Regions from separate parts of the Homo sapiens genome. Here region 1 is linked to region 2. Evidence: fine-mapped expression QTL. Tissue or cell type: lung. Region 2 holds a variant in brackets; the other region holds the start of a gene. All regions are shown on one strand. Distances are from middle to middle.

Region 1 (2,904 bases), 35 kb before region 2:
GGAGGCGCAGACAGAAAGAGGGACGCAACCTGCCTGCCTTCACTGAAAGGGTCAAAAGAAAAACAACTACAGAAAAGTTATTTTCTCAGATAGCTCCATCAAGCAGCTGCACTAGCCACAGCCCAAAGAGGCAGGCCCCCGTGGGCATGTTCGGGGGCTGGGGTGGCAGACAGTGGGTACTGAGGGTGCAGAGGCTGGGAGCTCTGGGCTGTGGATAGGCCCCAAGAAGACATAAGAGTTTTTGTGCATGAGCTAGGTGGGGATTTTTTGGTGACATCTATTTTTTTTCTGATCTCCAAAGGAATGGTGTGTGTGTGTGTGCGCGCGTGCGTGTGCCTGCATATATACATATGTGTATGTATATAATCGCAGGAGAAAATTGAATAAATACGGAGAAGCTCAGTGAAGAACATTACTATCCCTAAGTGTGATGTTTGGTTGCGTCCGGAAATTGTTACTATATTTGTTCCTGGAGTGATGGTGGGTGTATTGGGCTCCAGCCATCCGTGTCAAGTGTGATATGGGAAGACCCTGTGTACCTGTTCCCTTGCAAGGACTGTCTTTCATGGAAGGCTAGGTGCTAGGCCCTGCCTGTGTTTGAAGCTAGCCAGACCTGATGTTTATGAGTTCAGGTGATCGTAAATGCCACCTGTACTCCGGCAAAGTCGGGGCTGCTGTCTGTTGTCTCTGGTGGCTCACCTTTGACCTCTAGCCCCCTTCCCCTTAGGCTGCCCTGAGATATACATAAGTAGCTTGCAGGGATTCTAGGCCCAGTGTGCCCCACAGTGGGACAAGTGGACCAGTGCCCTCAGGGCTGTGGGATGGAGGATCCCAGAGGGCCTGGGGTGGGCAGTGTGGAGAAGGGTGCAGAGGGTGTGCTGGGGTGGGCAGAGAAGCCAGGGTCACCTTCTCCATTCAAACAGCTGTTTTCCCGAATTGGAAGTCACCCCCAATTCCTTCCACTCCCACCTCCCACCTCCCACGTGGAAAGCCCCAAGATGGCTTTGGGGTTTGGGGACTATACGGAACACTTTCTGGGCGCCCTGACCCCGAATATTTCAATCTAGAAGGGCTGTTTGTCCTCACATGAGGGCCTGGGTCGAGTTGTAACACACTGGAACAGGCGCGGCACCGAGGGCTCCGAGCGTTGGAGCGGAGCGGGGATGCGGGGGGCAGCGGGCTGGGTGCCAGGGCTGCGCGGGGCGCGAGGCACGGTGCTGCCGCCCCGCCAGGCTGACAGCCGCGCTCGGGCCACCGCGGCCGCGCCCCCTCCACCCGAGGCCGGGGAGGGGACGGGAGGAGGCCGGGCGGGGCGGCACTGCTCCCGCCTGCGCTTCCCGCCCCGGCCCGGGAGGGACCGTGTGAAAATGAGGCCGGGGCTCGGGGGGCGGGCGGGGCCGGGCCGGGGGTGGCAGCGGCAGCGGGCAGGGCGTCCGCGCACACCTCCCCGCGCCGCCGCCGCCACCGCCCGCACTCCGCCGCCTCTGCCCGCAACCGCTGAGCCATCCATGGGGGTCGCGGGCCGCAACCGTCCCGGGGCGGCCTGGGCGGTGCTGCTGCTGCTGCTGCTGCTGCCGCCACTGCTGCTGCTGGCGGGGGCCGTCCCGCCGGGTCGGGGCCGTGCCGCGGGGCCGCAGGAGGGTGAGTGTCCGGCCGCGGGGGCGCACCTGGCACAGCAGGCAGGGCCAGGAAGAGTGTTTAGGTCCCCGGCGGAGTCCAGAGCCGGGCGCGCGGGGCTCGGGGCTGGCGGCTGCAGCTCCGCGGGGGCCTCTGCTCCCCCCGGGACCTCACCCGCCGGCCGGGCCAAGGCGCCACGACCGCTGGGGCCCTGAGTCCTTCGGCCCGGCCTCGGACCCGGAGCTGCTGACGGTTCCCGCCCCGGTCCGGATGCCTCCAGAGCGCCTGCTAGTCAGACCGTCGCCGGCGAGCAGGCAGGAGGGTGCGGACCCTGGCCTTGGGGTCCCGCGCCTCAGCGTAGGCGGGGAAACTGAGGGCCGGGCCGGGCACATCCGCGAGGCGGTGGCAGCTTTGCCGTTTCTTTCTTTGGGGGCCGGCAAGTTCTGCTGATGGCTTCGGGGTGGGCTCCAGAGACTTTTCTGTCAGCGGAACAGCGCCTGTTCCGATCTGGGAATTACCCTGAAGCAGCAACAAGCCTAGGTTTTCAGCAGAGAACTTTGGTTTCCAGAGAGGACTCTGGACGTGCTGTGCTTACTGGACTTGCAATACTTTCAAAATGCTTTTGTTTTTAATTAATATCCTGGAGTAGTGTCAACCCAGGAAATACTTCTGCCAAGGCGGGTTTCCAGGTTGAGAGGATGGGCAGGGGTGGGAGTGCAGGGGGCCGGCCATGGGGACACCATCCCCGCTTCGCAGCATCTGAGAGCCCTGGATGACATCTGCTCCGATCCCGGGGCAGACTTCCCATAAATACTCTAAACCAGCGGGGTGCAATCTTTTGGCTTACCTGGGCCACAGTGGAAGAAGAAGAATTGGGCCACACATAAAATATACCAACACAAACGACAGCTGATGAGCAAAAAAAAAAAATAAATAAATAAATAAAAAAAAAATCTCATAATGTTTTAAGAAAGTTTATGAATTTGCATTGGGCCGCATTCAAAACTGTCCTGGGCTGCACGTAGCCCACGGGCTGTGTTGGACAAGCTTGCTCTGAGCTCCGAGAAAGCTGACAGACAGCTGCTTGGTGTTCAGAGCTTGTCTGTCCGTTTGGTCCTTTCCTCCTTTAGCGGGCATGTAGGTACTATTGCCTACTCACATGCCAGGTACTGCGCTGGCTTGGCATAAGGGACACAGACGCAGTCTGTTGTCAAGACATTGTCTAGTGGAGAGAGAGGAAGGAAAACAGTGACAACCCTGCCTGATGTGTGCATGCAAAGCCATACA
Region 2 (2,904 bases):
CCTCATGATCTGCCTGCCTCGGCCTCCCAAAGTGCTGAGATTACAGGTGTGAGCCACTGCGCCTGGCCAATTTCTGAATTTTTAGTAGAGTCAGGGTTTCACTGTGTTGGCCAGGCTGGTCTCGAATTCCTAACCTCAGGTGATCCGCCCTCCTAGGCCTCCCAAAGTGCTGGGATTACAGGCGTGGGCCACCGCACCTGGCCCAGCACTTGCTTTAAACCATCAGCCTTTGATCTTTGAAGAGAGGGAAGGCAGAGAGGGAGGGGGAGGGCTTGTGGGGAGGAGATGCTTGTTGATCCTTAGAGAGGATTTCAGACCCCTTCTCAAACACATCCTTCCCATATAAGGGCTGCAGCAAGGAGACTTCTCTAGGTAGCAGTTGTTGTTAGTATTAGCAGCTGTTTTGGGTGGGGGAAAGCTGTTTTCTATTTTTAGATGAGCACCTTCCCTTTGATATGCAGAAGAAGTTCTCAGGAAAGATGTGCTGTAATGTATTCTTGCTCCATTTTTGGGAATAAGGACTAATTTATTTTGTTAGAAATCTCAGAATTAGGCTGGGTGTGGTGGCTCACACTGTAATCTCAGCACTTTGGGAGGCTGAGGCAGGTCGATCACTTGTGGCCAGGAGTTTGAGACTAGTCTGGCCAACACGGCAAAACCCCGTCTCTACTAAAAATACAAAAATTAGGTGGGGGCATGGTGGAGGGCGCGGTGGCGGGCACCTGTAATCCCAGCTACTCAGGAGGCTGAGACACCAGAATCGCTTGAACCCAGGAAGCAGAGGTTGCAGTAAGTCGAGATCATGCCCACGCACTCCAGCCTGGGGGATAGAGCGAGACTCCATCTCAAAAAAAAAAAAAAAAAAATCAGAATTAAATAAAAATCAGAGTATCAGATTTCATCTTAGATAACAAAGATGTAGCATTACCTTTTTACAAAAATATTATGGTGTGATGTTTGTTTTGTTTTTCTCTTGGTTTGTTCTTAATGCATAATTTGTCAGGCAGTTCAAGTATATTCCTCTTTAAATTCAGTAAGTTAATTCTAGATAATTATTGTGTGGTTTTCTTCAGTTTGACTTGGAAAGCAAATTTGCTGTTCCACATAATGTTTCCTAGTGTATAGAGCAGGCAATACTGTTGAAGCTGTGTAAACACATTAAAAAGGAATTAGAAAAGTGATCTCATTATTTTTGGCAAAGCAAAAGCCCATACTGAGCAGCCAAAGTCAGCTACTGAACAAGTGCACTTTCTCGACAACTGGCTGATATTAATAACAGATTTCATAAAATGGCATCAATTCCTAGGGAAGAAACTAGGTTTTTCTCATTTT[T/C]CACTGATCGGTCTTGGTAGAACAAATACTTGCACAGAACAAATTTACTGAAGAAATGCCAGGATTTCTGGGAAAAGCTAGGGATGAAGAGGTTTTGCAAGAATTTGCCCTTTTTTATTTTGCTTTTTCATTCTTCCTGTTCCTTCCACATTTTTGCCTTTTATTAACATAGTTTCTCATGGCACACTCGGTGTTGAAAAAAGTGGTCTAGCAGTGGTCTAGTTGGCTTCGACTGAGTGCGGCACTGGTCCTGGTTTATCCATTTGGAGACACAAGTCGTAACTATGTTAAAATCCTCCAGAGTTCAGGGAGTGAAGCACTCAAATTCCAGCCTACAAGAAAGAGGTTGAGGGCCAGACCCAGGGAAAGAGATGCTGAGATGGACAAATGCAGCCTCCTGAGGCTGCTGTGCATGACCCCCGCTGCAGCCAAGGAGGCTTCCACACTGAACCAGGAGGCTAGCAGACTCATAGGACTGGCACATAGGGGAGGAGCAAAACCAAGGCATCGGCCAAAAGCATCCAATGTGGAGCTGAACTACCACATTTCAGGGCCTGCAAAGAGAAAATTAGTGAGGATATTAGTATTGATGCATTCTTTCAGTGCAGAGGGCATTAAAACCTAGGATTAACTGGCCTCTTGGGGCCAGAAGACTAATTCTGAGAAAATAAGAAAGGGATGGGAACTAGATTTACCTCCAAACCAAGTGTTTTCTCCTTTCAATTTGCCGTAGTTAATAAATTAATATTGCTGTTTTACTAATAGTTATATGACAATAAAAATGCATAGCTAGCACCTGTAGCTTACAAAACCCTTTTTAGGTATGTTATCTCATTTGGCTTCATTTAAACATTTTAAATTAGCCCTGCAAGTACGCATGGGTGAAAGAGACCAACTGAGTTTTGAGGGAAGTGCAGTTTGCAACAGAATGTGGAAATGAGGGCCGTGGCAGTCAGTATACTTCTTGTGGGCTGCTCCACACTTTCTTTAACACAAGTGAGTGAGGAAAATGGATAGATAATGTTTTTTACTCTGTGTGTATTGTTTTTGGTGTTGGTCAGCAACTGGTATTTATCATAAACCTATTCTTCACTCATCCCTCAGAGTGGGTTTCAGCTCCCCTCTCCCTTTGACCATTACAGATGTGGATGAGTGCTCTTTGGATAGGACCTGTGACCACAGCTGCATCAACCACCCTGGCACATTTGCTTGTGCTTGCAACCGAGGGTACACCCTGTATGGCTTCACCCACTGTGGAGGTGAGCAGACTGCCCCTGTCAAGTTGGGAGGGGAATGAGGCTGGGCCTGGAGGGGAGCAGGGCCTACCCCTGAGGTTTGCTTTCCTACATTGGGGTATGAAAGGTACATTGCAGTCCCTGAGCAATAGCGGTGAGTCCATCAACTTGAGAGCAGGATCTGCTAAAGGAAATCTCCCCACATGTATCCCTTTAACACACCGAGTGTGAAATGGAGCAGAGAGAAGAACTGAGCTCTTCCAGCTGTGAATTCTCTATCGACTTGATTGACTTGCGGCTGTATTCAGAGAGTGGAAGGGTATCTCAGGAGCTGATA

Direction of the effects. Alleles are on the strand shown, and positions count from the first base shown. SD is a standard deviation of normalised expression in the study named.
For the expression in lung of the gene that starts at base 1,438 in region 1, allele C in region 2 goes with a higher level than allele T (large effect, 1.2 SD a copy in GTEx).

What was found.
Region 1: it holds the start of SCUBE2, and the variant in region 2 is fine-mapped to the expression of SCUBE2 in lung (GTEx, PIP 0.95).

Annotation. Positions count from the first base shown.
Region 1 is chr11:9,090,133-9,093,036 of GRCh38, reverse strand. SCUBE2 (signal peptide, CUB domain and EGF like domain containing 2) reads left to right here and starts at 1,438. Exons shown (of 23, transcript NM_001367977.2): 1 at 1,438-1,641. The coding sequence starts at 1,509. It overlaps MIR5691 (microRNA 5691), which reads left to right and starts at 2,658; the gene lies at 2,658-2,725.
Region 2 is chr11:9,055,480-9,058,383 of GRCh38, reverse strand. It overlaps SCUBE2 (signal peptide, CUB domain and EGF like domain containing 2), which reads left to right. Exons shown (of 23, transcript NM_001367977.2): 10 at 2,475-2,591. All of the region lies in intron 1 of NRIP3-DT (NRIP3 divergent transcript), which reads right to left. Among named protein-coding and RNA genes, the nearest start is that of MIR5691, 33 kb to the left of the region's middle. The variant T/C (reference allele first, on the strand shown) is at 1,333.